7 linked regions of the Homo sapiens genome follow. The protein of the gene in region 2 purifies or fractionates together with the protein of the main gene of each other region. This does not show direct contact. Each region holds a gene or a part of one and is shown on either strand. Other genes may lie near its edges.

Region 1 (3,500 bases), on a different chromosome or scaffold from region 2:
AGTAGAGACGAGGGTTTCACCATGTTGGCCAGGCTAGTCTCGAACTCCTGACCTCAGGTGATCCGCCTGCCTCAGCCTCCCAAGGTGCTGGGATTACCGGCGTGAGCCACCACATCCAGCCTAAATTAATTTTAGAATCAGGTGCAGTGGTGCATACCTGTAGTCCCAGCAACCTGGGAAGCTGGGATGGGAGGACTGCTTGAGTCCAGGAGTTCAAGTCCAACTGGGGCAATGTAGCGAGACCCTGTCTCTAAAATAAATAAATAGGCTGGGCATAGTGGCTCATGAGTGTAATCCCAGCACTTTGGGAGGCTGAGTCGGGTGGTTCACTTGAGGTCAGGAGTTTGAGACCAGCCTGGCCAACCTAGCGAAATCCTGTCTCTACAAAAAAATACAAAAAATTAGGGCCAGGTGCAGTGGCTCAAGCCTGTAATCCCAGCACTTTGGGAGGCTGACGCAGGTGGATCACCTCAGGTCAGGAGTTTGAGACCAGCCTGATCAACATGGAGAAACCCCATCTCTACTAAAAATATAAAATAAGCCGGGCATGGTGGCATGTGCCTGTAATCCCAGCTATTTGGGAGGCTGAGGCAGGAGAATCGCTTGAACCCCAGAGGCAGAGGTTGTGGTGAGCTGAGACAGTGCCATGGCACTCCAGCCTGGACGACACATTGAGACTCCGTCTCAAAAAATAAATAAATAAATAAATAAGTAAAAAAATTAATTCTAATATTAGTTCCCTTTTTACTATACAAGTCTTTTTTTGCCTCAATTTTTCCATTTAAAACTGAAAGTATTTTGCACTTATCATCTATATCACCTACAAGTTGATGGATTTAATTATGGAAATTAAAGTTTTTTAAATTGCCATACGCCAATAGAAAGTACTAATATTTTATTCAAAATGTGGATGATAAATTTAATTATTATTTGGTAAGACAGCTGATGACAGGAAATATATGTTAGCATTCAAAGCCCCGTGGAAAATAAAATACCTTAGTAAACATCTACAATCACTGAGATCTGTTACTTGCTGTTCATATTAAGTATTATACATTATTAGGGGTCAAAAAGTCAGCAGCCCTTGCAAATCTACTCAATTCTTTTGTCCTTAAATCTCACCTGAAAAGTGCATATACCAGGGTAGCAATCAAAGCGAAACTGACCACAACTGCCACAAGTACTTGGTCGCTTACTCCTTCTATAACTGAATCATCATCCAGTTTCAAACTTTGAACTTCACCTTGATATTTGGCCATTCCAGGTCTAAAATAAGAAGAAACAAGATGAGAGTTACAAATGACACAGTGAAAATGAAATATACTAATAAAAGCAATGTAAATATAACTGACTTCTAATATATTTGGTTTCTGATAGGCTGCAATTAAGTACAACTCCAGTGGGGACTGATGGAGTTCTTTAAAATTTGCCAGACACATTATTTTGTGGAGAACAAAATTCTATTTCTATTTTTTTTGGATGGAGTCTCTTGCTCTGTTGCCAGGCTGGAGTGCAGTGATGCGGATCTCAGCTCACTGCAACGTCCGCCTCCCGGGTTCAAGCAATTCCCCTCCCTCAGCCTCCCAAGTAGCTGGGACTACAGGCGCGCACCACTACGCCTGGCTAATTTTTTGTATTTTAGTAGAGACAGGGTTTCACCGTGTTAGCCAGGATGGTCTTGATCTCCTGACCTCGTGATCCACCTGCCTCGGCCTCCCAAAGTGCCGGGATTACAGGCATGAGCCACTGCACCCAGCCAAATTCTATTTCTTTTAAGGAAAACAATTACTATAATTTATCATTTATTTATGTATTTTTTAAAAATGTTTTTTCCTCTTCAAGCTTAACCCCTTTAAAAAAAAAAAGCCATTCTTGGGCCAGATGCAGTGGCTCACGCCTGTAATCCCAGCATTATGGGAGGCTGAGGCAGGCGGATCACCTGAGGTCAGAAGTTCGAGACCAGCCTGGTCAACATGGTGAAACCCCGTCTCTACTAAAAATACAAAATTTAGCCGGGTGACGTGTGCCTGTAATGTCAGCTACTCTGGAGGCTAAGGCAGGAGAATCGCTTGAACCTGGGAGGCAGAGGTTGTAGTGAGGCCCAGAGAGCGCCACTGTACTCCAGCCTGGGAGACAGAGCAAGACCCTGTCCCCCGCCCCCCAACCTCCCCACCCCCCAACCAAAAACAATAAATAAATAAAAGCCATTCTTATCCAACTGCTCTCTTCTTATTCCTGAATACCAAATAAGTTCTCTAAATAGATCAGATCCCTTTTCCCCCTCACAGCATGTGTATATCTTGTGGCATTTCCCATGTATTGATAGGAAAGGAAATATATTATAGTTTTCTGTAAGCATTCTCATATTCTCTAGCATATGCCTTGTACACAATAGGACCTAATAGATATCTGTTTAAATAAAAGTGACTTACCATACTTACAGTGTTGTAATTTGAAAAGTAAAAGACATTTAGGCTATAGAACATTTATAGCTATACTAAAACTACTTGAAATAATGAAAATTCTGGTGCTTGAAAAACTATTTGTCCACCTGAAACTAAGCTCAGCTTATGGTTCAGAATTCTTTGAACTGCTTGGAATATAGAATCACTCTGATGCTGCATTTCCTTATGAAGAGAAAAGGGAGGATAAGAAACTTTCCTTCCTACACTCTAAACTAGAGAAAAATGGTAGTACCTAATTCTATAGGTATGAGGGGAGATAGCCCAGCCACACTGGAGTCCAAATATCACAGGTAATTCACATTTTTTTCAGACAAAACAGGAAGTGTCAAAGTCTTATAAGACACCTAAAGAGAAATTAAGGAATATATATTCAATTAAATATATATGAATAATTAAAATAAAGTTCTGCATTTATGTAACTTATTGAGCTGAAAAAAGTTTTATTCAATATCATCACTAATCAGGTATTTTGAGTATAGACGTCTTAATACCTTTGAAAATCATCTGAACTGGCTGCAAGAAAATTACCACTCATGGAAGAAACCTACGCAAACAGATGAAAGGCAGCTTTCATCAGCTTTACACGGACTAATCGCCTGATATATGGAACTTTTAATGACTGGTTTCAAGTAACTATTACGAAGGTGCACACCAGGAAACTCACAGAAACAGCTCTAATTGCAGTATTTTCATTCAAAAGAACAGTTAAATGAGCTGCCAACTGAACTGAAGAGCCTCAAATAAGCTAGGGGTGGGCCACGGAGTCAATTTAGGTTTTTATTTCATCAGGTTTCCTCTCTTAAAATTAGAGGTGCTGTAGCTGTTTCAAAAGTCCTAAGGGCACTGAGAACTACTTGCATCTGCTCAAAGATAACCCAAATGTTATCCCCTGTGTCAAGATTTCCAACCTCTAATTACCTCACAGAGCTGTGAAGGTTAAAACAAATGAACAGAGGTGAAAGTGCTTTGTAAGTTAAGTCTATCAACAAATGCATTGTAATTATTCCTACTCACATTTTCCTCTATGCTATACAT
Region 2 (3,500 bases):
GGCAGGCAGCCGAGAGTCAGAGTCATCCCTCCACTGCATAATGCTGCCCTCACACAGGGCAGTCAGGGGAGGGAGTGATGGGCTTGTCCTGAAGGGGTTAGGGAGGGCTTCCCAGAGAGAGTGAAATGGAAACTGGGCTTCTGGGGAGGCCAGGAGCATGGGGCAGGGAACTCTAGGAGAAGGAAGCGACTGAGGCCCAGAGGCATAGAAGGATGTGATGCTTGGCTGGGCGCGGTGGCTCACACCTGTAATCTAGCACTTTGGGAGGCTGAGATGGGCAGATCATGAGGTCAGGATATCGAGACCATCCTGGCTAACAGGGTGAAACCCCGTCTCTACTAAAAATACAAAAAATTAGCCGGGCGTGGTGGCATGCACCTGTAGTCCCAACTACTCGGGAGGCTGAGGCAGGAGAATGGCCTGAACCCAGGAGGCAGAGTTCACAGTGAGCTGAGATCGTGCCACTGCACTCCAGCCTGGGTGACAGAGCGAGACTCCATCTCAAAAAAAAAAAAAAAAAAAAAAAAAGGATGTGATGCTTGATGAGTGCTGAGTGCTAAGGGGTCTGGTAGCACTAGAGCCCAAAGGAGGAGGGTGGCAGGTCGAGGTTAGCTGGGACCGTTGGGCGTGAAGCAATGGGAAGGGCATTGGCTGCCAGGCTGAGGCACTGCTGAAGTCCTTGAAAGCCCATGTTTGCCCCGCAGTCCTGTGTCTCTGTGACTCTGCTGACCTCAGCAACCTCAGGGCTGAAGCTCTGAGCTTGATCTGTCTCTCTTACGGCAGGAGAGGTGCTGAGAGGGGACCGGATTGTCAACACCCCTTTCCAGGTTCTCATGAACAGCGAGAAGAAGTGTGAAGTTCTGTGCAGCCAGTCCAACAAGCCAGTGACCCTGACAGTGGAGCAGAGCCGACTCGTGGCCGAGCGGATCACAGAAGACTACTACGTCCACCTGTAAGTCGCCCTGTGCTCCTTGCTGCCTCAGGCTCACACAGGGGAGGACACTGACGGGAGAGGCGGTCGAGAGGGACTGAGTGGGGCCTTCACTTTCCAGCATTGCTGACAACCTGCCTGTGGCCACCCGGCTGGAGCTCTACTCCAACCGAGACAGCGATGACAAGAAGAAGGAAAAAGATGTGCAGTTTGAACACGGCTACCGGCTCGGCTTCACAGATGTCAACAAGGTAGAGTGTCTTTGGCGTGCTCACAGGACCGGGAGCCACACCTCACGAGTCCTGAGCACTTGGGGCCACAGAAAAGGTGGGGCTCGGCCACAGCAAGTTTCTCCAGGTGCCCTGGGCATGATGGTCTGTCAGAGGTCCGAGTGCTCCGGGCAAGTCCCTGGGAGGTGCTACAGGGAGGTGAAGCCACAATTCTTAGGAAGTTAGGTTCCATTTTTGTAAGATTAAAACAACATAAAAAAAAAAACCGTGGAACTTCATCAGTATGTAGGAGAGAGGGCTAAGTAGTGGTCAAGAGCGTGCAGGCTCCCTGGGTTTGAATCCTTCCTCTCCCAGTTACTAGTTGTCTAAGTGACCCTGAGCCTGTGGTTCCTTAGCTGTAAAATGTATGCAGCAGCAGTGGCGGGGTAAATTAGCACATTCGTGTGAGCCCTTCCCAGCACAGCCCTGGAGAATCAGCTAATAATGTGATGATTATAGCCCTGATTCTCTTATCTTTCTTTCTAAACTGAAAGATATTAGTTAGGGAATAAATTACAAAAGTATGTGTTTTGAGGTGCAGCCCCTGTCCCCAAAGGGCGTCTGTCCTAACTGGGAAGAGAACCGACAGTGGGAGGCTCTAAGTCTCCAGTCCCAGCTGCCTTTCACTGGCCATTAATTGCAGGCGAGGTCAGAGGGAGCTCCTTTTACACTCAGGTTGTCACAGAGGAGGTGGGCCATGAGAAGTTGGTGGGCTTTTGCTGAGTGGAGTTGGGGGTGGCATTCTAGTTGGAGTGATTGCAGGGTAGAGACTGGTTCATGGGGCGGTGGGCACAGGGGAGTCTAGGTGAACTCATGTGACTTAGATGATTACACCCAGTTGTATCAGGGTCAGATGATAGAAGGCCTTGAATGCCAGACTTTGAGAAATGGGCTTTTGTCTGATAAGCTGCAGGGAGCCCTTGAAGAGCTTCTGAGTAGGGGAGTGATGAGAACAGTGTTTTAGGAAGGTTGGTACAACCAGGCATGCTGGGTGAGGCAAGGGCCCTAATACCTGGAGAGTATCCCTAAGTGATGTTCTGTTGTGCTTTCTCTGTTGCTGTGTTTCAGATCTACCTGCACAACCACCTCTCATTCATCCTTTACTATCATCGGGAGGACATGGAAGAGGACCAGGAGCACACGTACCGTGTCGTCCGCTTCGAGGTGATTCCCCAGAGCATCAGGCTGGAGGGTGAGTGGGGAGGTGTGGCCGGAGGGGCAGGGCTGGATGGGCCTGGGCTTCTCCACGCAGGGTCTTCGCACTCTTCTCCCTCCTGAGCTGGCCGATGGGCTCGGGTGTGGCGTGTGGGCCCAGCCAAGGTAGGATCATGGTATTCTCATTAGAGAAGACGGGGTGTGGGGGCAGCTGACAGCTGCAGTGTCACGGGCTAGACACCTTACTAGTTTACCCCTTCCCAGCAACCCCAGGAGGTACGTGATGATTACAAAGGAAGAACTAGAGGCTCAAAAGGAGCTAGTGACTTGGCCAAGACCAAACAGCAAGTTGGGGCTTTGTTGGGCCTCCTCACAAGAACCAGCCAGCTCACCCTGGGTTGAGAACAAGGGGCCAGGGTACAGACAAAGCCTGTAGGCAGCAGGTTTCTTCGTTCCTCTCCCGCTGTGTGAGTGATTGGCATAAACTAAAATTTGCCCAGGGTCAACAGGTGTGCGGGAGTTTGAGAGTCCAGCACAGTCCTGATGGGCCTCACAGGAGCTGGTCCGGCTTTGCCTCACCTCTTGGCCCTTGATCATCACAGTGTGCTTTTTAATTAAGCAGCATGCCCAGGATTTTGACCATGTTGGTGGTATTTGGACTTTTTTTTTTTTTCCACTGTGGAACTTAGTGTTCAAACAAAATTAGACACAGAAGTCCCAAACATAGATCCTGCCCTTCAAGAGCTCCATAGCACATCTCCCCTGGGAGCTTCCCGAGCGCAGTTCTACGTTTGCATGTGTGACGCTTTTGAGGCCACCTGCTCCCCCACTGGCTCTTCAAGCTTAGAGTCTCCCTGTCTCCTTTTCTTACCATTTTATCTTTTTTTTTCCCCCCAAGACAGAGTCTTGCTCTGTCACCCAGGCTGGAGTGCAGTGGCGCGATCTCCGCTCACTGCAACCTGCGTCTCCTGGGTTCAAGCAATTCTCCTGCCTCAGCCTCCTAAGTAGCTAGGATTATAGGCGCCCACTACCGCACCTGGCTAATTTTTGTATTTTTAGTAGAGACGGGGTTTCACCATGTTGGCCAGGCTGGTCTCAAACTCCGGACCTCGTGATCTGCCTGCCTTGGCCTCCCAAAGTGCTTG
Region 3 (3,500 bases), on a different chromosome or scaffold from region 2:
ACACTGGGTATGTCAGGTACACCAAAGAGGTATACCACCTCTGAAAAATAACTCCCTATGTATTAATGAGGTTAAAAGAGGAAAGTGCTGGGAGAGAGGACCAGGAGTGCTGTGGAAATCCAGACAGAAGGTGAAGACTTCTGTGTGGGAGAGACACTCTGTGAGAGGGGAGCATATGAATGGTGCCCTGAGGATGGTGGAATTCAGACAGGCAGAGAGAGGTTGGCTCAACGAATTCAGGATAGAGGATGAAGGCTGGAAGGTGCCTCTTCTTTCAGAGTGACTAGGATTGCATCTCCAACGTCCAATACACCAAGTCTCAGACTCAAACCTCCAAATTACAGGACATTACTCAAAGGAGAATAAAGAATACATTCTTCTCACTTTAATCTTAAATGCTTTATTAACTCAGTAACATAGCAAAATATTAAGAGAAAAAAGAAAACCAGTAAAGACCTTGTCTCCTCAGGTTCTCAGGCAATTTTACTCTCAACCTTTAAAATGTAATGATAAGTAATATCTTAATCCATTAACATTTATTTGAGTTGGTTAAACTATACATCCATAAATGGAATACTTTGCAGCCATTAGCAATTAAGAACATGGGAAAACATACTGCTCAGTGAAAAAAAGCAGATAATGAAAATACGTATCTCACTTTTGAAAAAAAATCACAGACACTTATAAAGATTAAAACATCAAAATGTTAAGAGTGGTTAGCTTCTCTCTCAAAGGTATGATGATAAATAATATTTTCTCCTTTTCTGCCTACGTGTGCTTTCTATAATTACTATGTATTACTTTGGTAATGTGAAAGGAAAATAAAATCTCAGGACTCCAAATTTACTATGCCAAAGGAAAAAGTTAAACTTGGGAACTGAGTCTCACAAAACTACCCTCCTTTTGTTCCTAAGTAGACAGCTGCAAAGATAGTGGGCCACATATCCTCACAGATGGCCACCCTCACAAACTGTCACAAGCAAATTCCTTGTGGGCCCCAAAATCTTTACCCTAAAAGACAGTCCTGTTGAATCTCCCTCACCCTGACAATGTAAATTAACAGTTTATTTTCACAGGTATGGGACAAAGACAAGACTAGAAAATCATCCCTCCGCCCACCCCAAAACAAATGCAGATCTGACTTCTTTATCTACTCTATGTTTACTTTGTCTTACATAAAATGCAGATTTACTGAGCAGGAGATGAATGCATAATTGACTGTTCCTCTACCCCGTCCTTTCACATGTAACATGGATTCAGTGAGTGCTAATCAAAGCCTCACAAGAATGTGACCACTTATCTTACTACCTACCCTCCCCTTTTGTTTCCATTCCTCCTTCCTCTCCTGTACACTCTTTCCCCATTTAATACTGAAGTCCTTAAAACCCTCTTTGGAAAAAGCACAAGATACTGATCCTACTGTATCTTGTGTCTCTTTTTCCTGGGCAGGTCCTCAACCTTGGCAAATTAAGCCTCTAAACTGACTGAGACCTGTCTCAGACACTCATTGGTTTACAGTAATAAGAAAAACATGTTTTTAAAATCTGAGGTTAAAAAAAACGACAACCATCAAACTACTAGGTATGTTATTTTTCTTCCTGTCACATCTAATGACAATCTAATGTCACATCCACTTTACCCATTAAATTTAATAGGGAAACATCAAGTGTTCGGTGAACTCAAAAACTTAAGATGTTGTAAAAGAAAGGTCAACATTCTAACTAAGAAACAAATGTGTGGAGCAGACTTACCAGCCATAAGCAAACAGATAATGCACATTGAAAAGGCAACAACCATGATAATAGGCAACTGGAAAAGACAATAGAAAGAGATCATCATTTAAGAATGCTAATCAATGGCAGCAAAATCAGTTGTGCATGCATTGCTTGGGAAAAGAATAAAACTCATCTGTCAGCTAATACACAGCTAATATCTTTTGTCAACAAAACATTATTATTTATGGGTTCAATCACAACTGCCCTAGACTTTAGATGGGGGATGTGGTAAGATCGGAAGAAGCATGCTTTTGCTCCAAGCCAAAGGGTGCTAAATGGAAGGAGGATGCCCAGATGAGGACCTAGAACACTAGGCCTCCCTTCCATTCCAGAGCACTTGACACACTGGAAAGAAAATCCAGAGCGGCTCTTGCAGGGTCTGGTGAACAGAGGAGTCAAAAAGGAGAGAAGCATCAAAAATAAACTTTGCCTTCCATGTAACACGTTTGTCTCTGGCAATTCCCTCAATGTAAGAGAATTGAAGTTTTCCTGAAATGAGAAAGCTTCCACATTCCCTTTGCTTATGTTACTTCACATGAAAAGGATGTGTGAGAGTCTGAGGAAAAGAAAACAAATGCTCCACAGTTACTGTACTCCTCAGCCTGACCTCTTTGGAAAACTTAAGTATTTATATTTCATGTAATGAAATATAAAACCACATATAACGTTTTAAATTGAGACTGAAACCATCTATACCTTCAGACACAATGCTTTTAAAAACTTGAAAAATACAAAATGGTTTCTTACAGCCAGGAATTTCCAGTCCCTTGGAACACTTAAAGGACTATGAGATTCTAATTCATCCACTGAATAGTTTCCAAGAAATAAGTCTATGGAATCCTAGAACAGAAAGGAAGAAATTCGTAAACTCAGTGTGAGATAACATTAGTGATGAACAATGCAAAGATACAACCACGTAATGCCAGGAAAGCATCAAATACAAACTTACTTGTCTAAATCCATCGGAAAAGTTGTTCTTATAATATCGTATCATTGAGTTCCAGCCATCCATTATAAGTCCCAAATGAGTTCTCTTTCCAGTTCTGGTTAAAGAGGTTAAATTTTAAGTTACAGGTTTGTACACTGAATTCTCACACTGTTTTATGGCCAATAAGCATAAGGTATAGAAATAAGTGAGTGACAGATTTTAAAAACTATCCCTGAAAATACAGATACTTCACAAAAGAAATCACTTGTAGGTCCAAGAAATACCTATTTTCTTTCTAAAATATTACCAAAGGAGGCACAAAGAAACACACTAATTCCAGTTGCAAAGACAAGAAATATGAAGAGAAATACATAGCCCAGGTTAAGTGGTAGGACACAGCAAAGCAAACAGACTAGAAATCTTATTCTGCTCCCAGGGAACCCACATAGCAGAAAAAGAGCCACTGCATGCATAATACATTCAAAATGTTCTCATTAATGTCCTCATTACTCAGTGCAGTCTTTGAAAGCAGCATCAGCATCACCTGGGTGCTTTTTAGAGCACATCTCAAGACTGGTGCTTCAGGTACACGGTAAGGTCTGAGGAGCACTGTGGAGCGGTGGCTCTCAACCCTCCCCAAGCATCAGAATCTCCCAGGGTGGCTAAGAACACACCAGTACCCGGGCCTCACTTCCCAGAAATCCTGACTCCACAGGTCTCAAGTGAGGCCCAGATGCTGGAGTCTTGCTGTTGTTGCTGCTGCTGTCTGAAAGCTGCCCAGGTGATTTTTAAAAGCA
Region 4 (3,500 bases), on a different chromosome or scaffold from region 2:
AAAATACCACCACGTGGACAAGCTAGAAAAAGAAAACAATAGTACTGAAACAATTAGTATTTAAAAACATACAACATGACATAATGTTTACAGCAACCTCAAAATCAGTAAAAGATCTTTCAATAGTCTTAAGACAAAAAAGTACAGAGGGTTTTGCTTCTAAATGGTTATCTCTCATTGGGAAATATCTCTTTATTCATGACATCTATATCCATATACCAAAACTTTGCTTTCCTCTACTTAAATGCTTGTTTCATGATTTAACATCCCAACATGGTATTATACAAAATTCTACATGAATTTTCTACAGCCTATGTGTATGAAAAAAGGTAAGAAGCACAAACAAGCTGGATGTTTCTGCACTGAGCCTTTTACGGATGGCTTCCCTTGTTTCTATAAAGAAAGTTTAACACTCAATTCAATTTGAAGAAAGATGGTCAACATAATGTGATACATACAGATGAACACAGTGCAGCAACTAAGTATAAAATGCCATACTTTTCCTTTACAAAAAGTGAGCTCTCACGGGAGGGAGAGGAGGCTCTAGAAAAAAATATGATCAGGATTAAACAGCATCTACAGGTGCTCTGCCAGAGAAAATAAACTGCGGTTCAACCCATGCTCCATCTGTAACTACAGAGAAGAAACAATGAATAAATAAGGCCAAATAGCAAAGCAGATACTGCCAGATAGACTTAGGAAAGAAAAATGTCCCCTAAGGGGACCTGGCCAGTAAGAAAAGAAAGCACTCACAATGGCAGTTTCTGGTAAAGGTGTATAAACTCCCGATCCCAGAAGAAGAAAAAAAAAATCAGGTTTCATTACACTGCTCTGGCACATAAATAACCAGTTTAAAGAGATAATAAGTGAGTTGTGTTCACCTCTAAGTTAGAGCTCAGAAATTAACATTTTTCCACAGAGAAAGGGGACACTTATTTATCTAGTATTCACTAAACATAAACATAACCCCTGAATATATACTTTATTGAATCCTCTCAACAATTCTATGATACACAGAAACTCAGAAATGATAAATTCATTTGAAGTTAAGTCATTAATAAGGGGCTGGCTGTATAGTGCAAGCATTTAGAAGCATAAACTCTGGAGCCAGACTGCCCAAATTTTAATCCCAAACAGAGCTGGGTAAATTACCCTCTTTGCCACAGTTTCTTATTTGTAAAGTGAGTCTCACTTAGGGTTGTTGTGAAAGTTAAAAGATTTACCTCAGAGAGACAGTGGTGGACAGCAAGGACTCTAGAGGCAGACTTCCTGTGTTAGAATCCCTGGCACAGTTACTTGCCAGGTTAGTAAACTTGGGCAAGTTATTTAATATCTATGCCTGTTTTCAAAACTGCAAAAAGGGTAATAATACATATCCCACTGAGAGAATCAAAGGAGCTAGTATATTTATCACTTGTAGTTGGCTTGTCTCTCTTCTCTCCTTCTCCCCAAAACACTGAGAACCTTGTCTGGGCCAGTAAATGTTAACTATTAAGTGACAGATGATATTTGAACCTAGGTATATTTGACTCCAAGCAAATTCCTTCTACAGTTTTTAATAAACTACTTCCCAGAGAAACCTCATTAAGTTATTGGGCTGGTTGGTGCGCAATAACCTTTCTAAATATCACACTGCAGATCTGAGATACCAATAGCACCTCTTGAAAACAGAATGATTTGCAATTTGGAGAAGTTCAAAAAGGCTTCTTCCTGAGTTTAGGACAGAGCCCTACCTAAAGATTAACCTGAATTACAAGGTAGAAAAAAAGGAGGTTACAGTCAACCCCAAACCACAGTTAAAATAAAACTAGGAGAATAATGGTCCTCATTGGATTAATAAGGTCCCAAAAGTTAACATGATAGTAAAGGAACTGCGTGTTTATGTGTGTTTCAGAAGACAACTTGGGACATGAATACAGAGGAGTCTCGAAAGAAAAGGATGACTTCCTGAGGCTCCAAGAGCCTTAACACTCAGTAAATTCCAGGCTTCACTTAAAACTTCCCTCCCATCCGTACGTAATCCCATTCCTTTTACGGGCCAGCCTCCACTGCTTAAATAAGATGTTTGGAAAAAGGGAAGCAGCGGAAGGGCAGGTCAACACTGAATAGTGCTCCAAGATAATGGAGTCTACCCTCTTGGGACATTCGGGTAGGCAGAAGCTGTCACGGTTTTCCCTCATTAGTTTTCTCCCAAATGCACTAATGTATTCTTGTTGTCCATCCATGCAATATATATTATGCAACTGGTTAATCCAGCTTCAAGTAATCAACATTTGATTTTGGCTATTGGTAGCTGTTCTACACTGGCAACCAATTTCTCTTGCTCCATCTTTCACGACACCTGGATCCTGTCTCTATAGGTCCCTATTACTATTTCCTTGCTGATACAAGTTCTTAGCTGGGTATCTTTTATTTGCTTGCCCTAAGTCCAAGATTATTTCCTTCTTTCCATATTCAAACTTTCTATTGCTCAATACTGACTCCATTTGTCACTAAATTTTAGTTGTAAGAAAGCAAATGGTATATGCCATTTCAGACTAATGTGTTAATTTCTAACAGAACCATAATCCTGTTTGACATATTCATTTCGGAAAGTATTAATACAAATGAATTCATAAAGTTTTGGGGCATTTGAAGAGGCAAATAAAAAAAATGGAGGCAATATTAAAAAATGGAGGCAATATTAAAAAATGGGCAGGAACTAAGCACTGTATAGACTGTGCAGATCAGTCTGATGTCCCCTAGTTTTTATTTATAATACACTATCAAAATAGGCAATAACAATAGCTGCCATTTACTGAATATATACACCATATGGCAGGCACTTTACATGTATTATCTCATTTAACTCACGGGAACTAGCTGCATTTTGCAGATGAGAATTGCATTCCAGCTAGATTTTGTAACTTGTCTAAAACTATAGAGCTAGTAATTTGAAACATGGGACTCAAACCCAGGTCTCTGACTCCAAAGCTAGTGTTCCTTTCATTAATTTATGCTATCTGATGTCTCTTTTACTTCCTTAGAGTTCCCAAAACCTGCATGTTGATTTTTCCACAGTGAAGGTCCATAGAGGTGGCAGCAGAACAGGTACAGAAGAGGAAAGAGGTAGGTAGGACAACCATTATTTTCAAGTCTATTGAAACGTGCTGCTTAAAAATACATGTTTTAGTTAACTATTAATTTTGAGCAATTTAGAATTTCAGGTCATACAGCTATAAAACCTCCCAAAGTTAACCAGATTCTGAAATAAGTATCAGTCTTTATATGTCAAAATAGACTATAAAAAAGTAGTATTTCCCCCTCCAAAATTATAACAGTCACAGAGATCAATTATCTTCTTGGAATAGTCACTGAGACGTGCTAGGCTTTTAGGGAAGTTTAAAAAAAAAGTTGCCTATATAATGAAGCAGACTATATCATTTCCTAACCAGGCTGAATAACAGAATAGTCTCTATAAATCTAATTTCACAAATGCTGTAACTTAACACTACAATTCA
Region 5 (3,500 bases), on a different chromosome or scaffold from region 2:
CCAGGCTGGTCTCAAACTCCTGGCCTCATGTGATCTGCCCTCCTCGGCCTCCCAAAGTGCTGGGATTACAGATGGGAGCCACTGTGACCAGCTTTACCCATTATTTCTTAGTAAAATTTTATTACAGAATTTGTATTTCTTAGATGTGCTGTAGACACGTATCACTATTAGCACTTAAAACAGTGATATATAGTAGTACTTGGTAAGTATTTGTTGAATAAATTATCAAATTTACGAGCTAGAAAGGCACACTTGAGAAATAAACTAAAGAGAAACTCTTTTTGGAGTCTCGCTCTGTAGCCCAGGCTGGAGTGCAGTGGTGTGATCTTGGCTCACTGCAACCTCTGTCTCCTGGGCTCAAACCATTCTCCCACCTTAGCCTCCTGAGTAGGTGGGATTACAGACATGCACCACCACGCCCAGATAATTTTTGTACTTTTACTAGATATGGGGTTTTGCCATGTTGGCCAGGCTGGTCTTGAACTCCTGACCTCAAGTGATCCGCCCACCTCGGCCTCCCAAGGTGTTGGGATTACAGGCATGAGCCACTGAGCCCAGCCAAGAGACTCTTATCTTAAATGCTTATCCATTGCAAATGTGCATTCATATTGTCTAAAAAGCACTAATACAGTTTTGGTGGGCCCAATGCAAGATCCTCATTTGTTGGGTCACTACTTGAACATAAAAGTTTACCTTAAGATACTGCAGTGTGGGGCCAGGCACGCTTGCTCACTCCTGTAATCCCAACACTTTGGGAGGCTGAGGTGGTTGGATCACCTGAGGTCAGGAGTTAGAGACCAGCCTGAACAACATGGTGGAACCCTGTCTCTACTAAAAAATACAAAAATTAGCCGGGCACAGTGACGGGCACCTGTAGTCTCAGCTACTCGGGAGGCTGAGACAGGAAAATCACTTGAACCCAGGAGGCGGGAGTTGCAGTGAGCTGAGATCACACCATGGCACTCCAGCCTAGGCGACACAGCAAGACTCCATCTCAAAAAAAAAAAAAAGTTACTGCAATGTGTTGTAATCATTTTTATTGCAGAAGCCTTTCCTCCTTGCTGGATGTTTTTCTTCATGTCACAAAGGAAGTGTCTCAGGCTTTTGCACCATGAAAATAAGATGAAGTTTGTTATTCCAAAATTTAACTTATTTAAAATGTAGATGCTAAAAAATTACCTTAATTGTTTAAAAAAAAAATCTGTACGTATTGCTGTCATCCTCCAGCTTCATGTTCTTTCACCAAGCTCCTCTTGGTTTTGGAGACTTGTCTTGATTTTAGTTAAAGAAAAATAAGTGATTGGTTGGTGTCCTACAGAAAACAATTTTGTCTTGACTGACCTGTCCAGTAATTAATTTTAGAAGTATTAGTTACTATATACAGGTCAAGAATGAGTGATGGCACTCTGTACTTTAGTGCCTTAGGTTCTAATGCAGCCAGCAATGTAGTATGCTTAGAGATGGGGATCAGGGGTCAGGATGGCTTCCCAGATTTCTGCCTTTGAAGGAAACTGAAGATATCAGAGGCAAAAATTTGAGGTTGAGGTAAAAGAGACTGAAATATTCAGTGTTCATTTCAGAGCAAGAGTTGCCTTTATTAGGCCTCAAGTATAGAGACACGTCTATCATCTGAACTTTAAAAGTACTTTAATAGTTTACTGATGACACGATGTTGAAATTCTGTAACTTGGCCGGGCACGGTGGCTCACGCCTGTAATCCTAGCACTTTGGGAGGCCGAGGCAGGCGGATCACGAGGTCAGGAGATCGAGATCATCCTGGCTAACATGGTGAAACCCTGTCTCTACTAAAAATACAAAAAATTAGCCGGGCGTGGTGGCGGGGCGCCTGTAGTCCCAGCTACTCGGGAGGCTGAGGCAGGAGAATGGCGTGAACCCAGGAGGCGGAGCTTGCAGTGAGCCTAGATTGCACCACTGCACTCCGGCCTGGGGGACAGAGCGAGACTCCGTCTCAAAAAAAAAAAAAAAAAAAAGAACAAATTCTATACTTGCTAGAGACTGCTTTTTATTGTTGTTATGAAAGTTGGCTGAGTCTGGTGGCTCACACCTGTAATCCCAGCACTTTGGGAGGCTGAGGTGGGTGGCTTGCTTGAGCTCACGAGTTTGAGACCAGCCTGGACAATAGTGGTGAAACCCCATCTCTACAAAAAGACAAAAAAGCAAGAATTAGCTGAGCATGGTGATGTGCGCCTGTGGTCCCAGCCACTTAGGAGACTGAGGTAGGAGGATGGCTTGAGCTGGGGGCAGAGGTTGCAGTGAGCTGAGATTGTGCCATTGCACTCCAGCCTGGGTGACTGAGCCAGAACTTGTCTTAAAAAAAAGAAAAGAAAAGGAAAAAAGAAAATCATGATGCCAAAATAAAACTACATTTTATATGTTTGTTCATGGAAATTAGCTCAAAGCAAAAACAGCTTGGGCAATTTTTTGAAAAAGGTTTTGCTTTAAATATTTCTTTCCTCACTCATGAAACTTAGTTGTTCTGTGTACTTTTTATGGCTTCATTTTCACACTTTGTTCTACCATATTAATCAAATGTGAATATGTAATTTGTGTTTTGAGTTAACCCTTAAATAAAAAGGAATGTGGCCCCCGTCCAACACTGACATCATCTGAGTGTTACATTCGTGTCAGATTATCAGTGGCAGTGTAATGTGTTAAAACACAGACTTGAGCTCCAGGAATGCCTAGATTTCAATCCTGGCCCTGTCTCTTAATAATTATGTGATCTTGTGCAAGTCCTGAGCCTCAGTTTCCTTAACTTGAAAATTGGGATAATAGTATCTATCTTGGAGTTGGTATGAAAATTAAACACAATTTGGCTGGGCACGGTGGCCCACGCCTGTAATCACAGCACTTTGGGAGGCCAAGGCGGGTGGATCATCTGAGGTCAAGAGTTCGAGACCAGCCTGGCCAACATGGTGAAACCCTGCCTCTATTAAAGATACAAAAAATTAGCTGGGTGTAATCCTGTAATCCCAGCTACTCAGGAGGCTGAGGCAGGAGAATCACTTGAACCCAGGAGGTGGAGGTTGCAGTGAGCCAAGATAGCGCCATTGCACTCCAGCCTGAGCAACAGGGTGAGACTCCATCTAAAAAAAAAAAAAAAGTGAACACATTTATAGGGCTTAACACAGTGTCTTGCCTGTAGTAAATAACTGTACCATTAATGTGAAGAAATGAAATATAGATCAACAATGTGACCTAGACACATTTGCTTTGTACCCTTAAATCCTGACCTTTATTAAATAACAATACCTAATGTTTGACATCCATTTGTAGGTTACAAACTACTTGCACATATTAATAGATACCACATAGCAGTTCAAGTACAAATGAGAAATCTGTCTTCCTCACAATCAAAGACTATTGTTATGCCTTTTTTCCCTTTCCACATGTGAGTCAGTTGTTTCAGTTTGTGGCCCTTCACATTAATGTCATAAAGCTGCCACCCGCTTCCACTGAGGTGGTCTGTTAAAGAGGTA
Region 6 (3,500 bases), on a different chromosome or scaffold from region 2:
CATTTTATAGAAGCAGATCCTAAGACATGGATGTGAGGATACGCAGTTTATTTGGGTATTCCTCCCAGGAAACACCGGTAGGGAAGTATGGAACTGAGATGGGAAAGGCAAGAATTCAATACAACGTGCGTCCATGGGCAAGTCACCACCCTGAGCTTCATGTCCTGGGAGAACTCACAGTCCCATTATGGAGCGAACCTCTTCGGGATCCCAAGTGGGACGCTGGCGTGCTTACTCACCAGCTTCCCAGCCGTCACTGGTTGGGGGCTGCTTTGGGAGCACTAACTCACTGGCCCCTGTTGTTTGTCCTCGGGCAGAGTCCTAGGTGTTTGAAGTAAAACCTACATGCTGCAAGCCCAGATCCTAGAGGTTTCATCTCATGTGCTAACTCCTATCAGCTGTAGTGGCTGGCTGCGTGGAGTTGCTCTTTGGAGAAGGTATAAGAGACAGGATCTGATTTTAGCAAGGAAGAGAGTGCTGGGATGTCTCAGTGATGTGTACCATGGAACTGGTTCCTGGTTCTCCCTATGAGTTTATATATATATATATTTTTTGAGACGGAGTCTCGCTCTGTCGCCCAGGCTGGAGTGCAGTGCCGTGATCTCGGCTCACTGCAACCTCCACCTCCAGGGTTCAAGTGATTCTCCAGCCTCAGCCTCCCGAGTAGCTGGGATTACAGCCCGCCACCATGCCATGCCTGGCTAATTTTTCTATTTTTAGTAGAGATAGGATTTCACCATGTTGGCCAGGCTGATTTCAAACTCCTAACCTCAGGTGATCCGCCCACCTCGGCCTCCCAAAGTGCTGGGATTACAGGCTTAAGCCACCACACCCGGCCTCCCTATGAGTATTGAAAGAGATACAAAACAGATATTAAAGAAAATGAGGGACATTGAGGACATCCAGGGAGGGGTCTGATGCATGGAAAGCCCAATGTTGGTTCTCCAGAGTAAGAATTTCACAAAAAGGACAATTAGACAAGGCAAACCTTTGGTTTCTGAAGATATGAGGTCTCAAGTGTCCCTGGAGGGATACTTCCAATGTAAAGGCAGGCTCTCCCCAAAATACTACTTACCACCCTCTGGCTTCCTCAATCCCCAATCTCTTCCTTTGCTCCTTCACTCCTCAGGGCCTTCTCTTCCCAACTCCCAGCCACCCCCTGAGGTCTATGTGAGCCTGATCAAGGCCTGCGGTGGTCCTGGAAATTTCTGCCCATCCTTCAGCGAGCTGCAGAGAAATTTCGTGAAACATCGGCCAACTAAGCTGAAGAGCCTCCTGCGCCTGGTGAAACACTGGTACCAGCAGGTGAGGGGGCTGCCAGGATGGCAGGGGCAAGGAGAGGGAAGAGGGTGAGGAGGAAAGGCAGGGCCTGATTTTCATCTCAGGAAGCTGCAGCCAGGGGAAATGGAAGCAGGTAGAGAGGGAGAGAATGCTAGTCTTTTGAAATGTAAAGTGAAACCGTCAGTGAAGAAGGTGGAAAAGGAGGAGAGGAGGAGGAAGAGGAGAAAGAAACAGAGAAGGAAGGAGAAAAATAGGTGCTCTACAGTATTTCAGTAAACTAGTTATTTTTATTTTATTTTATTATTTTTTTTTGAGACAGGATCTTGCTTTGTTGCCCAGGCTGTAGTGCGGTGGTGCAATCACCACTCACTGTAGCCTCCACCTCCCTGGATCAAGACCTCCCTGGCTCAAGTGATCCTCCCACCTTAGCCTCCTAAGTAACTGGGACTACAGGCATGCACAACCATGCCCAGCTAATTTTTTTTATTTTTCTTTTGTAGAGACAGGGTCTCACTATGTTGACCAGCCTGGTTTCGAAGTGGTCTCAAGCGATCCTCCCACCTTGGCCTCCCAAAGTGCTGGGATTACAGGCACGAGCCACCACACCCACCCCACATGTTCTTGTTACCCTTCAATTACAGTCTAGGCCTGGCAGATGTCAGCTTCGCCGGGTACTGTGGCCATTCGTCACAGCAGGTTAAGGACTAACAAGGGGAAGGATTTCTTTAATTCCACCCCAGGAGTCGAAAAGAGGGCATGTGTGAGTGTAAACAGCCCTCAGGGACATTTCTCAGGCAGCAGCTCAGTCAGTTTTGGAAACAAAATCTTCCTCCGAGATAACGGAAACTCCAACTGCAAAACAGAACTCAGAGACAAAAATCATTTATTATATAGAACTTGCAGAGAAGTTACAAGGGAATCAGACAGCAGAAGGAAAGATTTGATCCAATAAAAATAAAATAGGCTGGGCATGATGGCTCACGCCTGTAATCCCAGCATTTTGGGAGGCCGAGGTGGGCAGATCATGAGATCAGGAGATCGAGACCATCCTGGCTAACACAGTGAAACCCCATCTCTACTAAAAATACAAAAAAATAGCCAGGCGTGGTGGCGGGCGCCTGTAGTCCCAGCTACTCGGGAGGCTGAGGCAGGAGAATGGTGTGAACCCAGGAGGCGGAGCTTGCAGTGAGCCGAGATCGCGCCACTGTACTCCAGCCTGGGCAAGAGAGCAAGACTCTGTCTCAAAAAATAAAATAAAATATAACAGGGATTTAAAGAAAAAACAATTACCGGCCAAATGTGGTAGCTCACGCCTGTAATTTCAGCACTTTAGGAGGCTGAGGTAGGAGGATCACTTGAGCCCAAGGGTTCAAGACCAGCCTGAGCAACATAGTGAAACCCCGTCTCTACAAAAAATACAAAAATACAAAAATTAGCTGGGGGTGGTGATGGGTTCCTGTAGTCTCAGCTGCTCAGGAGGCTGAGGAGGAAGGATCACTTGAGCCCCGGAGGTGAAGTAAGTTGAGCTGGGTATTTTTTTTATCTATTCACTAAGGCTTACATCTTACAGATTACAGGCATCCTACATTTTATATATCATCTAAGTTTTAAGAATGTAACATTTCACTAATATTGAAGAAAATAAGTTATATTACCATGAGTTTAAATTTCTAACAAAATTATAATGTTATTAGTTATGGTTTACAAAATTGAGTGTTAAGGATGAATTTGCAAAAAGTTACAAAACAAATTAATTAACTTATAATTTTTTTTTTTTTGAGACAGAGTCTTGCTCTGTCGCCCAGGCTGGAATGCAGTGGCGCAATCTCAGCTCACTGCAAGCTCCGCCTCCCGGGTTCATGCCATTCTCCTGCCTCAACCTCCCGAGTAGCTGGGACTACAGGTGCCCGCCACCATGCACAGCTAATTTTTTATATTTTTAGTAGAGACGGGGTTTCACCGTGTTAGCCAGGATGGTCTCGATCTCCTGACCTTGTGATCCACCTGCCTTGGCCTCCCAAAGTGCTGGGATTACAGGCGTGAGCCACTGAGCCCAGCCTTATAAATACATTTTAATTCAAAATTGAATTTCTAAGGTCAAGGATAAAGTTTTTTTGTTAGTAAGTCAGTGACCTATAGGAAAGGCCCAAGGTTTCATTTATTTGGGAGATGAGAATTATACAAGATGATTCTGTGTTTGTTTCAAGGCCAAAGTGTTA
Region 7 (3,298 bases), on a different chromosome or scaffold from region 2:
GGTGTGCACTAAAGTAGTAAGGGCTGGGGGGAAAGAGGTGAGTACAAATTGAGTTCATCTGTGAGGCAGGAAATGCTTATCAAACCCCAAATTAATCATTTTTAAATAACCCATGATCTATTGACTTGTAAGAGTGCAGAAATTTAAAATGAGGCTACATTATTTTAAACATGCTCCTGTTTCACTTTTACTGATCAATAAACAGTAAGTCCTTAGGAAAGGGCAAGGACCCCGAGGCTATAGTTCCAGCCCATTCTCATATCATAAGACATGTCACGGTCTATATAAAATCAAACAACAGCTAACCCCATCTCTACTACACATACAAAAAAATTAGCCAGGCATGGTGGCACACGCCTGTAATCCCAGCTACTCGAGAGGCTGAGACAGGAGAATCACTTGAAATCAGTAGATGGAGGTCGCAGTGAGCCAAGATCACGCCACTACACTCCAGCTTGGGCTACAGAGTGAGACTCTGTCTCAAAAAAAATAAAAAAATAAAAAAATCAAACAACAGCTGATGGTCCTTTCAATTCCATTTCAGATCACTGGGGTAAAGTGTATTAAACAACAAACTGATTCAAATAAACAATAGATGTGGCCATTTATTTAGAGCTGGCTAGAAAATATAAATGGCCACCTATCGATGTTTTTCTGCTTCCTTTTTATCAGGACTTGAGACCAGGAGACGTATCCAGCAAGCGGAACCTCTGGGAAAAGCAATCTGTGGATAAGGTCACTTCCCCCACTAAGGTAATCTATTGGGAAGACTAGTATTTCAGAGGTTTGTTTTCCTGATGTATGGTGTAGTATAATGTCCTGGAGTCAGATGAGAAATATCACTGACCTACAGATCTTTGCCTGCACACCCATCAGTGTCTAAAAGACCAGTACATAACACAGTGAAATGAAAAGCGCATTGCAAGTTTGTCAGTCATACAACATAAACGGCCCAAATCCATGGAATGGTTCTCAGTAGGACATTCTCAATACACCACAGTGGTAGGAACATTGGCAGCAGAAGGCCGTATGGGATACCATGGTCTACGTTTCCTTACAAGGTCCCAGCTTAGTGCCACAGTCATTTAAAAATCACTTGGGGAAAACATCTGTCTCCCTGAGTGTTTCCAAAACTGCTTTCTGGAACCATTTTAGATTACATTGCCACTGCCAGCAGCCTAAGACTCAGGGTTGCTATGGCCAAAAAAAAAAAAAAAAATATTCAAAAGTAAGGCAACCATTTACCACCCTGTGAAAATGAATGATTAAGAATGATTGGGTTCCTCTTACTTTTAGTCTTCTGGTCAAAGGATATGGTCATTCTTCAGAAAGGAGGCTCTGAAGAACATCTAAATGATGCTTACACTGCAAATGGGACCCTTTGTGGTACAATGAGCTCATTCAACTCCCAACTGTAGCCTTTCCCCATTTCAAGTAATAGACCTCGTGTTCTCCTTCAATAAAAAGAAAATTAAAAAGGGAGAAACTGGAGACCAACAATAAGCAAGGTTAGAACAGGCTGCTTATGGGTTGATTTAAACAGAAGCACTTCGTAAGCAAACTCAGGACTAAAGAGCACATCAACGGCAACTAGAGAATCACTACAATTCACTGCAGTGAGAGAATTACCTTCCCTTTCCCACTTTCTCATGCTCTTAGTTCTGGTGCAGCTACCTAAACATATTACCCCACCTTCACTATTAGCTACGTATTGCGCTTTTATTCCATTAAAATCCACTAGCCTTTCTAAGTCATTGCTAAACATATGAAAAGTACCTGCTGGTAATTATCACATTGCTAACTACTAGCGCTACAAGTGAGCACCCCACTATATGCCAGACACTATTCTACCTTCTTACCCTCCATTATTTCATTTGATCCTCCAGTCACCATGTGAGGTAAGTAGTTTATCATTCTCATTTTGCAGCTGAGAAAAATGAGGCATTGAGAGATGAAGTAACTTTCCCAAAGTCACACAGTGAATAAGTAGCATAGCCTGCATTGATACTCCAGCACCTGATCCGAGCCTGCATTTTTAACCATTATACATGGTACTTTCTTTTAGGATGCATATTCAGGAGAAAATGTATAGTTATTCAATTCCTTGTATAATTTTCTCTCGGTGGCAGGGGAGAAAAGAACTTTCTTTGTTATTTTTTAAACAAAGAATGAGCTTGTTGACCTAAGCTTTTATGACCTCTCTAGCCTATGCTATTAGCGCATTGCAGGTTTGTCAGCCATGCAATGTAAATAGCCCAAACCCATGGAATGGTTCCCAGGAAGACATTCTCCACACACCACTGTGGGAGGAACATTGACAGCAGAAGGCTCTCCTCTCAGACCTCTGAGAGGTATCTGACTTCTCAGAATGGCAGTCCCAGTGTTTATATAGGTTCCTGTCTGAAAAGCAGATGTCAGCTGGCCATAGACCATCATCACCAGTATAACGGAGTCTCTCTGGATAACATTCCTCCTAGCCAGAGCTCTGGAAAGTGGAACAAAGATGATGTGGAATGGTCAGACTCAGAGAACACCACTCACATACAAACATGAATGGTACTCCCTGGAGTTATGTAGCACCAGGGCAGTACAAGGTAGGAGGGTGACAGTGTGAGTTTTCATGTGCCACTAACTTCTTTCTACAGTAGTAATAATATAACCACCAGACCGAGAACTGAGTTTATGAGGTAGCAGATTAGGTACCTCTTTTGCTCCAAACTGTCAAACTCATTTCTTGTTACTCAGTCATTCCTTAGAAATGAATACAATGAACACCCTTGAAAATTGGAATTCACAACACTTTAAGATTTCTTAATAGCTTGGCAAAAATTTTTAGCAACTAGCTGAGGGGGAGAGAATGGTGTAAGAATAGGACTATAGGTCAGATAAGTCTCGTGGGGTAGGGGTGTAAGAATAGGAGGGAGAAAATAGAGATTGCTAGATTAAAAATGGGAGAAAACTAAAGATAAACATCCTCCTTCACCATCATACATTGATGTGGCCCTCACTGAGCTATTCAGTCGCATGTGCCTGTTCTGGAATACACACTGTAGATTTTTGGCTCTTACAGTGGGGCTTAAAAATGAAAAAAACAAAGCAACTTACTTGACTCTAAATGCTATAAGCAAGGCCAAAAGTTAAGACAGGAAAAGAGAACATCAAGGAGAAAGACAGGAAGAGGGAAGTGAAAAAAATCAGCAGAAGGAAGGCTAAAATAAAATAAGATCCAGCCAGGCGCAGTGGCTCACACCTGTAATTCCAACACTTTGGGAGGCCGAGGCAGGCAGATCACTGGAGG

Evidence for each region.
Region 1: the proteins of TM9SF4 (region 2) and RNF170 purify together in Homo sapiens (affinity purification with mass spectrometry; one large-scale study listed by BioGRID and IntAct). This does not show direct contact.
Region 3: the proteins of TM9SF4 (region 2) and SACM1L purify together in Homo sapiens (affinity purification with mass spectrometry; 2 studies listed by BioGRID and IntAct, with this or other methods). This does not show direct contact.
Region 4: the proteins of TM9SF4 (region 2) and ZC3H15 purify together in Homo sapiens (affinity purification with mass spectrometry; one large-scale study listed by BioGRID and IntAct). This does not show direct contact.
Region 5: the proteins of TM9SF4 (region 2) and RTN3 purify together in Homo sapiens (affinity purification with mass spectrometry, with the first as the bait; one large-scale study listed by BioGRID). This does not show direct contact.
Region 6: the proteins of TM9SF4 (region 2) and OASL purify together in Homo sapiens (affinity purification with mass spectrometry; one large-scale study listed by BioGRID and IntAct). This does not show direct contact.
Region 7: the proteins of TM9SF4 (region 2) and CALD1 purify together in Homo sapiens (affinity purification with mass spectrometry; one large-scale study listed by BioGRID and IntAct). This does not show direct contact.

The regions. Positions count from the first base shown.
Region 1 is NC_000008.11:42,886,606-42,890,105, forward strand, and holds part of RNF170 (E3 ubiquitin-protein ligase RNF170), read right to left. Parts: intron 2,810-3,500; exon of another isoform or gene 2,698-2,809; intron 1,267-2,697; coding exon of another isoform or gene 1,260-1,266; coding exon 1,123-1,259; intron 1-1,122. UniProt on the Homo sapiens protein: E3 ubiquitin-protein ligase that plays an essential role in stimulus-induced inositol 1,4,5-trisphosphate receptor type 1 (ITPR1) ubiquitination and degradation via the endoplasmic reticulum-associated degradation (ERAD) pathway.
Region 2 is NC_000020.11:32,140,714-32,144,213, forward strand, and holds part of TM9SF4 (transmembrane 9 superfamily member 4 isoform 1 precursor), read left to right. Parts: intron 1-783; coding exon 784-952; intron 953-1,052; coding exon 1,053-1,182; intron 1,183-2,268; coding exon 2,269-2,392; intron 2,393-3,500. UniProt on the Homo sapiens protein: Associates with proteins harboring glycine-rich transmembrane domains and ensures their efficient localization to the cell surface.
Region 3 is NC_000003.12:45,737,896-45,741,395, reverse strand, and holds part of SACM1L (phosphatidylinositol-3-phosphatase SAC1), read right to left. Parts: intron 2,819-3,500; coding exon 2,725-2,818; intron 2,616-2,724; coding exon 2,523-2,615; intron 1,810-2,522; coding exon 1,752-1,809; intron 1-1,751.
Region 4 is NC_000002.12:186,489,260-186,492,759, reverse strand, and holds part of ZC3H15 (zinc finger CCCH domain-containing protein 15), read right to left. Parts: intron 1-3,500. UniProt on the Homo sapiens protein: Protects DRG1 from proteolytic degradation. Stimulates DRG1 GTPase activity likely by increasing the affinity for the potassium ions.
Region 5 is NC_000011.10:63,684,500-63,687,999, forward strand, and holds part of RTN3 (reticulon-3), read left to right. Parts: intron 1-3,500. UniProt on the Homo sapiens protein: May be involved in membrane trafficking in the early secretory pathway. Inhibits BACE1 activity and amyloid precursor protein processing. May induce caspase-8 cascade and apoptosis.
Region 6 is NC_000012.12:121,029,247-121,032,746, reverse strand, and holds part of OASL (2'-5'-oligoadenylate synthase-like protein), read left to right. Parts: intron 1-1,129; coding exon 1,130-1,305; intron 1,306-3,500.
Region 7 is NC_000007.14:134,964,634-134,967,931, forward strand, and holds part of CALD1 (caldesmon), read left to right. Parts: intron 1-672; coding exon 673-753; intron 754-3,298. UniProt on the Homo sapiens protein: Actin- and myosin-binding protein implicated in the regulation of actomyosin interactions in smooth muscle and nonmuscle cells (could act as a bridge between myosin and actin filaments).